Homo sapiens: one gene and its partners. The protein of the gene in region 1 purifies or fractionates together with the protein of each later gene. This does not show direct contact. Each region holds a gene or a part of one and is shown in the gene's direction. Other genes may lie near its edges.

Region 1 (3,649 bases):
GCATCATGATGAAGCAACTCCAGCAGCAGCAGCCCAATGACAAAACTGTGAGTGGCTCTGGGGCCGGGCAGGGAATGCGAGGGGGAAGGAGACGCAGCGTGCGAGGTGCGTTCCTGGTACGCAGGATCGCACGGTTTTCAATCCTGCTCCTGGGCAGGAGTTTGGCCGGGGCTGCCCCTCATCCTTACCCCCCTACCCATGCCCCGGGGGACAGGCTACCCGGCGCCGGCCGCCAGCTGAGGGCGGGGAAGCTGGGAGGCTCCGTGCGCCGGGGGAGCAGCATCCAGGTCCCAACCTCGTGGGTGGGCTCATGCCCTTCCACCTCGCCTGTACCTGTGAACCGGAGAAACGCCGTCCTCCCCTCTGAGGGCAGGCGGCAACGAGGTTTGGCCCGGGTTTTGCCAACATTCAGATCGTCAGTTCCTCACGTACACAAGAAGAGGGAGGGATAATACCTTGGATTCCTGCCTACATCCAGGGGTTCCGTGGGCAGGTCACCCTGTGAGCCCCCAGGGCGCACCGCACTTCTAAGTAAGGTCGGCCGCTGCGCCTTCAGGCTGGCGAGTTCCCCCAAGGTGACCCGCATGCCCAGATCACCCTCTGCTCCAGGTGAAGCCCAGGCCTCCACAGAGGCATCAGGCCCCTCGCACCAGTATCCACTGTTATCTTGGTCCCACGGAAGCACCCACTCTGCAGGCCTCCTGGTGAAGTTAAGCTAGAGTTTCTTTTCTTCCTTTTTTTCTTTTCTTTCTTTTTCTTTTTTTTTTTTTTTTTTTTTTTTTTTTTTTTTTTTTTACTGCTTTGGACCTATTTTTAAATGCCATAAAATCTGCTGTCATTAAACTTGGCAGGCTGGCCAAGATTGGGCCAGGGCACTTTCTGAGTTGGTTAGTGCATAATAGCACAATAGGAACCAGACCCAAATGCTTTGGGGGGATGGAGTGGGGGGCTGGCTCTTCCTTGAGGAGAACGGCTTGGAAAAAATCTGCAGCTAACTGAAACTGCTCAGAAAACCACCCTGTCTAGAGGCTGAAGGGAAGCCCTGCTTACCTCAGCTTTTTAGTTCTGGGAAGCTATGGTCTGAGAAGGCAGAGGGGAGGAATTGGGCTGAGCTGTGAAGGTAAGGGGGAAGAAGAAAATCAAAGTAGAATTTGGTTTAATAAGGTCCATGCAGACCTAATAGTCCAGCCCACAGAGGCAGAAAAACAAAACAATAAAACAAATTGAATTCTAACTAATATCCGTAGGTACGGCGGATTAACTGAGTCAATAAAGACCACTATATAGATAAGATAATACCAGGGTATATTTGCTTAGCCTGTGCAGACAACGGAGGGAGGGAATTTGCTCATTAACATGTTGGGATTGGTTGGGGGGCCTATTCACAGAATATCCAGGGGATGACAGGAACTCCCATGGTGGCTGCCAGTCCAGAGAGACACGACGGTGGCTTACAGGCTAACCCAGTGGAAGTACAAAGTTACCAGCCACCTTGGAAAGTACTGAGCGACTTCGCCTTGCAGAGTGACATAGATCAGCCTGCTTTTCAGCAACTGGTAAGTGTCAGCTCCCAGATGGAAGAGGCTGAATTCCCAACAGGAGACTCTGGTTTAACTGTCACACATTGAAAGATTCAGTGGGGAGGGTGCCTTCTTGGGCTCAGGGTTGGGGAGAAACCAAGGAGGTGGGTAATGAAGAGAAGGGAGACAAATGCAGGGAAAACGAACCTCTTGGCATCTTTTTTTTTTTAATGAGACTGCATAATTTGACCATATAGGTTGAATTTTCTATCAATCAGGCCTTCTTTGAAGGATTAATTTCAAGGTACCTAACTCTAGGTAGCATGTGCCAGAAGATGTACAGTGTTGGAGAATCATACATCTTAGAATTTTAGAGTTGTCAAGGACTTCAGGAAATCGTCTTGGCATTTCAATCAGCAATTAGTAAGTTTATCCTTCCTGAGCATCTAGAGAATGGGATATATAGGACCCAAATCAAGGCGATTGTAGTATATAATCAATGCTATAATACACAATCAGTGTTGTTATCAATAAACAGCAGGCATGTGTCTGGGTACAATTTTCAAATATATTAATAAAGATTATTCAAATAGATGAATACTTTTTGTTACAGTATCCCTTGCTGGGAATGTCTTAATCTAAAATGTAGGACCGTTTAAATGTTTTCAAGTGTATGAGTTCAAATGTCATAGAGACACACAGTGTGTACCATGTATAGCAAAAGGGACATGAGCTCTACCAATCAGAAGTAAAGTGTTTAATCTGTGAAAACCTTAACATGTTTTCCACATCCAGAGAGGAGAAAATTAATTCACTTTTTGCCTACAAAAGGCTTAAGGGGTCAAGATAAATAAGAACAATAAATATATGTCCTTTGTAATATGCTATATTTATATAGATGATTTTTTTTTCTTAAAGAGTAATCAGCCTTATAGAATCTTGTTTTATAAAATGTAAAGATCTATCCTGAAACCTTGTTCCCTTTTTTGGAAATGAAGCTTTAGTTGAGGTTAGCTTTTTACCCTCATATTTACCTGGAGGGCATTTGCTTTCTCAATGTCAACAGTTAGGTAATTGGCCAGAGGCAAGTGGTTAAAAGGGCTTGGCCCCAGGCTTGTGTTTGCAAATGCTAAGTGGGTGCAGAGGCTAGAAGTCCCTTAATCTCATATTGGAAAAATTTACTGTAGAAAGAAATGTAGGCTCTAGAACTAGGAAAAAAAAATTATTCTAAGCTCATTAATCTGTTGAGTTATTTGAGCGAATCCTGAATCACAGGAGGAAGGTAAGGGGAGGCTTCAGGGCAGCCAAATGTTTGCACTTTCTGAAACTTTAGTGTCAGATGAGAGCAGTGGAAGGGAAGCTGAGGCAGGAGTGGGCATAGTTAGAGAAGGTTTACAACAGCAGTACAATGCGTTTAGGGTTAAAAGAAGGAGTCAGATATTTAAGAAGGAGTCAGATATTAGGGTTAAAAGAAGGAGTCAGAATGGGATGATGTCATAATATATGGGTCTCATTTTGGAAGGAAGAGCCTGATTTAAAGAGAGAGAGAGAGAAAGGCCAAGAGGCAGCAGGACCAACAAGGAAGAATGCCCAAGCTGTGAGCCTGCTGAGGAGTTAATCTTTGTTCTGTGGAGCCTCCTCTCAATCTCCTGTCAAAGGATCTGAGCCTGTTACGGATTTTCCAACTGAAGAAGAGAGTCTTTGATGCCTAGAGACTGAGAGCTCACCTACTCCCAGGGCAACATGTAGCCAGCAGGATAATTTTATTTCGAGCATGCATAGTAGAGTTGTGATGCCATTTTACAGTGGGAAACACATTTGTTCTTAAATAATTTAATGCAACATAATGTTGGGAATTCAGTTTCAGTTAAAACAGAGATCTTTTGGAAGATGGGAAAGTGAGAGGATTTCTTCCCAAGTTTTTCTCCTCTAGGCTTTCTCTAAGCCTGTTAAAATTCAGTTATCTATGTGAATATCTTTACATATCTATCTACACAAACATTTCTACATATACAATATGATGAGTTTATAATCTTTTTATGAATACTATTCCAGTGTCCTTTATTTATTTCTCAACCTTCTATGCAGGTCAATTTTTCAGAAGGAGGACCGGGCTCTAATTCCACTGG
Region 2 (4,168 bases), on another chromosome or scaffold:
CAGCCCCCACCTCCTCCCTCCACACCAATCAAATTCCTGCTTGTTTCTTGCCATATTCATTATCCTACCTCATTCCCCTCTTATTCCTAGAAAACAGCACACTCACCCTCCCCTCCTCCAACTCTCAGGCCCACCCTCCATAAATTCCAGCAGCCTGGCAATCAGTAACTTTAGCATCACACTTCACAGCTCTCCTAGTTTACACTACTTGTTACTACTCTCCTTGCTACTGCTCTCTAGGGTTTCTGCTAAAATAAAAAATAAAAAAAAATAAAAAAAGCTTCACTTTAAAAATATCTTGGGTACAAGTTGAACCTACAGTTAAGTTTACTCACACATTTACACATTTCATGATTTTATTTTAACTAGTAGCTCAAGTCCATGCTCAATTATGCAGTGAAAGAAGGCTAGATCCTTAGGAAACAAATTTTTCTCTATTGTAAAGAAGAAAAATCACCTAACCACTCAACAGAAACCCCAGTCCTGGGGCCACTCACCCTCTTATCTCCCTACTCCCCCAATCTCCAGCTAATGGGACTTTGCTTTTTCCTTTGTCGGGTCATTTATTTCACTTTTCCTGGCGCTGAGATGGCCTGAGTCTGTGTATGTGTGCACACGTGTGTGGCCACTGCTTTTCTTCCAAAGGACTCACCTCTCTTCTGCCATTTTACTAGGACACAGGAGGCGGCTCTCTGCTCTCGCTCTCCCTCTCTTTTTCTCCCTGCCCCCAACTCAGCCTGGGCTTTTTCCTGTCTCTTAACTCCACCAGTGCAGCAGCAACTAGCTGAGCTGCTTGAGAGAGAGAGAGAAGAGAGAGAGAGAGAAGAGAGAGAGAGAGAGAGAGGAGAGAGAGAGAGAGAGAGAGAGAGAGAGAGAGAGAGAGAGAGAGAGAGAGAGAGAGAGTGTGTGTGTGTGTGTGTGTGTGTGTGTGTGTGTGTGTGTGTGTGCCTGCGTGCGCAGCTAGGCCAAGCCTGCGAGCCTGCCTGTCACTGGAGAGTTTTAGTTTGCATTCAGAAGAAAGGAGGAGGGGAGACAAGAGGGGAGGAGGAAAAGGTGGAGGGGGGAGGAGTGGGGGGGCGCAGAGAAGGGAGGGAGAATGTCTTGTTTGTGGCTTGTCAGCAATTGCTTGAGACAAGCTTCCATGTGTGAAAGCTACTTGGCATGAATGCCTGGGCCGTACCAAGTGTCACCGCAGCAAGAGGGGGAGTCAGAAGAAAAACAGATCAGACCAGAGCAGACAATAGGCCCCTAAAGTGTTCCCCCTAAGTTGCTTTGATGTTGTCCTGGTGTCTTGATACCAGGAGGCCAGGGATTGCGGGAAAAGGGTCTTTTTTGTCTTCATTCACTTTCCCCCCTCAGTTTCTGAAATGATTCTCCAGAATTTCTCCTCATAAAAAAGGTAAGAGCCCTAACAATTCCTTCTTCGGTGGCAGGCTTGTTCGCCTGTGCCTGGAAGTGGGGGTCTCATTCCTGCGCTGCTCTGGAGGAGCGCTGGGGTCCTGCGATTGGAGCTCCTGCGTTGCCCCTGGAAGTCTTTCAAGGCATCCAGGACTGGGGATGGCCCCTCTTTCGAGGGAACCCCAGTAACACGATCTGTGCCTCTGGGTTGGTGGGGGAGAAGGGGTGGATGGAGAGGGCTGGGAGGAGGGTGTGAGGGTGGGAGGGAAAAGAGAGAGAGAGAGGGAGCGCGAGAGAGGGAAGCCTGGAAAAGAGGGAGAGAAGGGCAGAGCCTTGGTTCAGGGAAACCCCAGCCCAGAGCCCAGGGAGGCCTTGCAGGCTCCGAGCTGTGCATTCTCAGGCTGAGCAAGGGCCGGCCAGGGCTCCGCCGAGTGACTGCAGAGATTGCATCGAGCTTTGTGTGTGCCAGTGTGCCCGTGGGTCTGTGTGTGCGTGTGGACTTCCCACACACTGCCCTGGCGTGCCTCGCTGTGAAGGGGAGGCACCCCGATCCTTACCACCCCAGCCCAGACTCTCCGAGGAGGAGCGGCATGGCAGGCAAGAAGGGAGAGCAAGAGAACTCTGCCACAAGACGATCCAGAAACTTTTCCAGTCTCAGGGATTCCTCTGGTCGTAGAGACTGTTGAGTTGTGGGGTGCCCCGTGCCTCAATTTCCCCATCTGTAAAATCAAGGTTGCTGATCAGGGATGCTGTATGCCTCCCTGGGATTGAGCGAAACAGAACAGATCACTGTGTCTGAAACGCGTGGAGAAATCGTCAGCTAGAGATGCTGTGGAATCACAGAGTAGAAGTGTTATCATTATTCTTGATCATCATCATCAGGGTAATAAAAACATCATTAAAGACACCCTGAGACAAATAGACTGAGGAGCACAGATCAAGTGTCTGAGCATTTCTAAGGAAACAAAAAGCCTTGTTCCACCTGTTGGCTTCTGTCCTTTTTCTCTTGTGTCTTTTCGTTAGATTTATTGGCCGATTTGTACAGAGAATGGGGTGGGAGGGGTTGGGTTTTCCCCTTTCCTCCTCCTTGTACGTATTTTTGTTTTAAAGAAGGTCAATGTAAGATGCTTGAGCGAGAAAATGTGCCTCCTGGTATAGTAGTTTATTCAAGACCTTGTGTTTTCTGGGGCTGGCAGGGCATGCAGACGCATCTGTAAACTCTACCTTGGAGGTTAAAGATTTTTATTGTGGCTTTTAGAGATTAAATGAGATTTATTTACAATTGCTGTTTATCAGAGAGTAAATATCTTACTGTGTGTGTACGAGGCTAAGAATGTGAAGGCTGTTTACTCGCCGGTGGTTTTGTGGATAAAACCTTTTGCTTTTTCAAGTGACATCTTGAGGGATGGAACAGAGGGCTAAAATCAGTGCCTAACATTCATCTTAACAATTTTTTTTGAGGAAAAAAAATGTCTGCTTATTTTCTTGAATTGTGGATTTCCTTTCTTCTGTTCCTACACATTGATTGTTTAAAGGCTCTCAGTTGTAGCTCTCTCTGAATTCTCTGGAGGAGTTCTGCTTTCTTACCTAATTCTAGGTTTTCTGTGACTCTGCTACTTGTCCAAAAAAATCTGTAAAAGTCTAGGAGGCTGTGCCTCCTTCCATTCTAACTGCAAATGTTTATCAGACTGACTCCCTGTGATAGCTGGAGATTGAAGCAAAGGGCCAGCCCTGGCTGAGAATATTTATGTGCTTTTCACAGAGGCCTGGAAACCTGACTTCTGAGTATGGGAAAAGCTGAAGGAAAGCCATTAGTTGGCCTGGATCTGGCAAGAAGGTCCCCCTACATTTAAGGTTTTATTAAAATAAAGCTGTATTTTATGCATATATATATCTGAAAACTTAGTTGTTTTCTACTTTATAGTCAGAGATCTTACCATGGTTGTTCCTGACAAGATTTCAGGGTCCAGATATCTTCCTAAAATGTTAGAATTTAAGAACTGCAAGGAAAAAGAAGTGTTATTCCATCATGTTATAGATGAGGATGTTAAGGTCCAAGAGAGATAAGCACTGATCTGAGGCGGGTGCAACAAAGCTGTGGTAACATCTAGACCACACCCTGGGGTTCAGAGTACCCCAAGGGTCTTCATGCCGGGTACCCTTACCTCACACCCACATTTGATTTTACAAACTCCAGCACTTGGCCAACCAAAGAGAGGCACCTTTTGTAGTTCTGCTTGCTGTGCTGGATTACAGCAGCACACTCTGCCCTGCTCATGTCATCAAATGGTACAAATATGCAAACATGGGTCCACAACATGAATTTGCATAAATTCATTCATGTATTCATTTGTTCATTCAACTTATATTTTGGGGCTCTTTACTCTGCAGCAGGCAAATACTGGGCACTGAGGATATAGGAAGAGAAAGGCAGATATACCCCTGCCCTCAGGGAACTTACAGTCTTGTTGGTATGATCAACATTAACCACATGGTCACACAAACCAGTAATCATAATATTGATGATACTTGTTGAATAGCATGCAAGTATTATGACGGAGTGCATAGAGTTGCATAAGTTATTGACTCAAAGTGTGTAACTAGACATAAGCTAACTGTTCTCTTTCTCTGTGTGGCTGAGTTCCCCTTGCCCCAGCCAACCTCCATTCCACTGGTGCCATTCCTATTCACAGGGAGCCCAGCAATTCCAAAGAGCAGAAAATTCTCCTTCCCTCTCTCACCATCCTTCACTCTCTCTCTTTTTCTTAGC
Region 3 (3,649 bases), on another chromosome or scaffold:
GAAAGGAAGCTTAGAAATGATTTAAGAAGAATACTTATTTATTCTCTATTTTTCTGCTTCTCTGCAGTTTGAGGAAATGAATGCAGAGCTTGAGGAGAACAAAGAGTTGGCTCAGAACCGTCTCTGTGAGCTGGAGAAACTTCGGCAAGACTTTGAGGAGGTCACTACACAAAATGAAAAGCTGAAGGTAGGAACGCATCCCTGAAGGGCAGTAAAATCAGACGTTCTGCTGATCAACTCACGTATATACATAGTTGTGAATCTGCGTATTCATGAGGGATAAGAAAAATGTAGACAAAATCCAACATCCTTTTATGATAAAACTCTTAACAAATTAGGTGTAAAGAAGTGTACCTCAACATAATAAAGGCCATATAAAACAAGCCCACAGCCAACATTATACCCAATGGCGAAAAGTTGAAAGCTTTTCCTTTAAGATCAGGAACAGGATAAAGATGCTCGCTGTCATTACTTTTGTCCTAGCCAGAGTAATTAGGCAAGGATAAGAAATAAAGGCCTCTTAATCAGAAAGGAAGAGGTAAAGTTGTTTCTGTTTATAGATGACATGACTTTATATATAGAAAACCTTACAGGCTCCACGAAAAAACTGTTAGAACTATAAATGAATTCAGTAAAGTTGCAGGCTACAGAATCAACATACAAAAACAATTGTGTGTCTATATACCAACAACAAACTCTATAAAAAAGAAATTAAGAAAACAATCCCATTTACAATACCATTAAAAAAAATTGTGAATAACCTTAACCAGGGAGATGAAAGAACTGTACACTGAATGGATAAAGAAATGTGGTGTGTGTTTGTATGTGAGTGTGTGTGTGTATATGTGCAACAGCATGGATATATTTAGAGGACATTATGCTAACTGAAATAAACCAAGCACGGAAAGGCAAATACTGCATGATCTCACTTGTATGTGGGATCTAAAAAAGTCAAAATCTTGGAAGCAGAGTGTAGAATGGTGGTTACCAGGGTTGGGGAAATCGGAAGATGTTGGGGAAAAGGTACAAAGTTTTAGTTATGCAGGATGAATAAGTTCTGGTGATGTGTAGCATGGTGACTATAATTAATGCTGTATTGTGTACTTGAAATATGCTAAGAGTAGATCTTAAATGTTCTTGCCACACACGAAAAGATAACTGTGAGGTGAAGGATTTGTTAATTAGGTGGATTGTGGTAATGATTTCACAGTGTATATGTATAGCAAAATGCCACATTGTATACCTTAAATATGTATAATTTTTATTTGTTGATTATACCTTAATAAAGCTGGGGGGAACAAAGAAAAAATGTTAAGTTTTGTTGATATATCTACTTCTTTACTTACATATTTACTTATTATATGTACTCTGCCTTGCCCTGAAAAGGATTTAAAGCAACATACAAAGATATGTAGACTAAATCAAGGTGCTGTAATGTAGGAGTTGTTGAGAAAAATGAGAAGTAGGGTAAACTAGGGTGAGGATCCAAAATGCATTAAAGTGGGGCTTGTATACAAGATGTTTGCAGGGGGCATATATATACTGTGGAAGGGAGGCCATTCACATGTCAGTGCTTACCGAAGTGATTCCACAGGTTTGGCTCTGCAGTTTTTTGCTACCAAAACAGAGAAAGAAACACGATTGGTGATCCTGTTGGTCTTCAAACCTGCCCAGAAGAATTTTCTTCTTAGGTTGTTAGTGTAGGGGCCAGCCCCACAGGGTCGGTGGGTCTCTCCCTGTGTGCGGAGACGAGAGAGTGTAGAAATAAAGACACAAGACAAAGAGATAAAAGAAAAGGCAGCTGGGCCTGGGGGACCACTACCACCAAGTTGCGGAGACCGGTAGTGGCCCCAAATGCCAGGCTGCACTGATATTTATTGGATACAAGACAAAGGGGCAGGATAAGGAGAGCAAGCCATCTCCAATCGTAGGTAAGGTCACGTGGGTCACATGTCCACTGGACAGGGGGCCCTTCCCTGCCTGGCAGCCGAGGCATAGAGAGAGAGGAGACAGAGAGAGAAACAGCTTATGCCATTATTTCTGATAATTAGAGACTTTTAATACTTTCACTAATTTGCTACTGCTATCTAGAAGGCAGAGTCAGGTGTACAGGATGGAACATGAAGGCGGCCTAGGAGCGTGACCACTGAACAGGTTAGGCCTCCGGATAACGGCGGACGAGCCTGACTAATGTCAGGCCCTCCACAAGAGGTGGAGGAGTAGAGTCTTCTCTAAACTCCTCCCGGGAAAGGGAGACTCCCTTTCCTGGTCTGCTAAGTAGCAGGTGTTTTCCCTTGACACTTACGCTACCGCTAGACCACGGTCCACCTGGTAACGGGCGTCTTCCCAGAAGCTGGCATTACCGCTAGACCAAGGAGCCCTCTGGTGGCCCTGTCTGGGCATAACAGAAGGCTCGCACTCTTGTCTTCTGGTCACTTCTCACTGTGTCCCCTCAGCTCCTATCTCTGTATGGCCTGGTTTTTCCTAGGTTATGATTATAGAGCGAGGATTATTATAATATTGGAATAAAGAGTAATTGCTACAAACTGATGATTAATGATATTCATATATAATCATATCTAAGATCTATATCTGGCATAACTATTCTTGTTTTATATTTTATTATACTGGAACAGCTCGTGTCCTCGGTCTCTTGCCTCGGCACCTGGGTGGCTTGCCGCCCACATCTTAGGAGAAGAAAAGAGATTCTGGAAGTCTTTCTCACTCCTCTTTCGATCATAGTCATCTCTATTTTACAAGTTGTTTGTAGGTTAAATGATATGAATAAAGATGTTTGAACTGAAAAATAAAAAACAAAAACAACCTAAGTTAAATCAGTTAAAAGTGTTTGAGTAATTAAATCAGATAGTTGCTTAGGAGAGGCATAACTATTTTTGATACCCTGTCAATTTTTTTCTCTGTCACTGTTATTAAAGAGAACAAGTTAGTGACTGGGGTCCTCAACTATGTTTTTAAAATAAGCATCCTGACAAATTTCACTCTTCTGGTGGCTCATTTGACACAGAATATAAAACACATATCAAAACAATTCTAGGAGGAAAGAATACAGTATATCCAGGTACCATCTCCTAGTTAGTCTAATTTAATTTTGGGGTAGATTTTACATAACTACAGCAATGGGTAGATAACTTAATAATCTTTATAAAATTGTCTCTCTTGTGTAGGACATCAGTGAGTTCAAAATTTTACTTCCTGTCTAGCGTCTGGGGCAATGCTAGATTCTGCTTCTGACTTTGCTTTGGGCCCTCCTAAGGTGGAATTGCGGAGTGCAGTGGAGCAAGTCGTTAAGGAAACTCCAGAATATCGCTGCATGCAGTCACAGTTCTCCGTCTTGTATAATGAGAGCCTACAGTTGAAAGCACACTTGGATGAGGCTCGGACCCTGCTTCATGGCACCAGAGGAACCCACCAGCACCAGGTTGAGCTTATTGAGGTAATAGCCTTGCCTTGTCTTTTGTATGTAAGCTTTCTTGCCTCCTAAATTTTACAATTTTACTCCCTCATGTGCAATTAATCTCTCATTCATTCAGCTGTCATTCATAGAGTGGCAGTAGGTCTTTACTCTGGTAGGTACTGGGCATATAAAGATGAGATGACAAAATTCCTGCCCTCACAGATCTTGTAGTCT

The links.
Region 2: the proteins of ISL1 (region 1) and BCL9 purify together in Homo sapiens (affinity purification with mass spectrometry, with the first as the bait; one large-scale study listed by BioGRID). This does not show direct contact.
Region 3: the proteins of ISL1 (region 1) and RNF20 purify together in Homo sapiens (affinity purification with western blotting, with the first as the bait; one study listed by BioGRID). This does not show direct contact.

What each region holds. Positions count from the first base shown.
Region 1 is NC_000005.10:51,389,886-51,393,534, forward strand, and holds part of ISL1 (insulin gene enhancer protein ISL-1), read left to right. Parts: coding exon 1-47; intron 48-1,388; coding exon 1,389-1,556; intron 1,557-3,608; coding exon 3,609-3,649. UniProt on the Homo sapiens protein: DNA-binding transcriptional activator. Recognizes and binds to the consensus octamer binding site 5'-ATAATTAA-3' in promoter of target genes. Plays a fundamental role in the gene regulatory network essential for retinal ganglion cell (RGC) differentiation.
Region 2 is NC_000001.11:147,540,276-147,544,443, forward strand, and holds the start of BCL9 (B-cell CLL/lymphoma 9 protein), read left to right. Parts: upstream 1-1,225; 5' UTR 1,226-1,399; intron 1,400-4,168. UniProt on the Homo sapiens protein: Involved in signal transduction through the Wnt pathway. Promotes beta-catenin's transcriptional activity.
Region 3 is NC_000009.12:101,547,332-101,550,980, forward strand, and holds part of RNF20 (E3 ubiquitin-protein ligase BRE1A), read left to right. Parts: intron 1-67; coding exon 68-187; intron 188-3,274; coding exon 3,275-3,454; intron 3,455-3,649. UniProt on the Homo sapiens protein: Component of the RNF20/40 E3 ubiquitin-protein ligase complex that mediates monoubiquitination of 'Lys-120' of histone H2B (H2BK120ub1).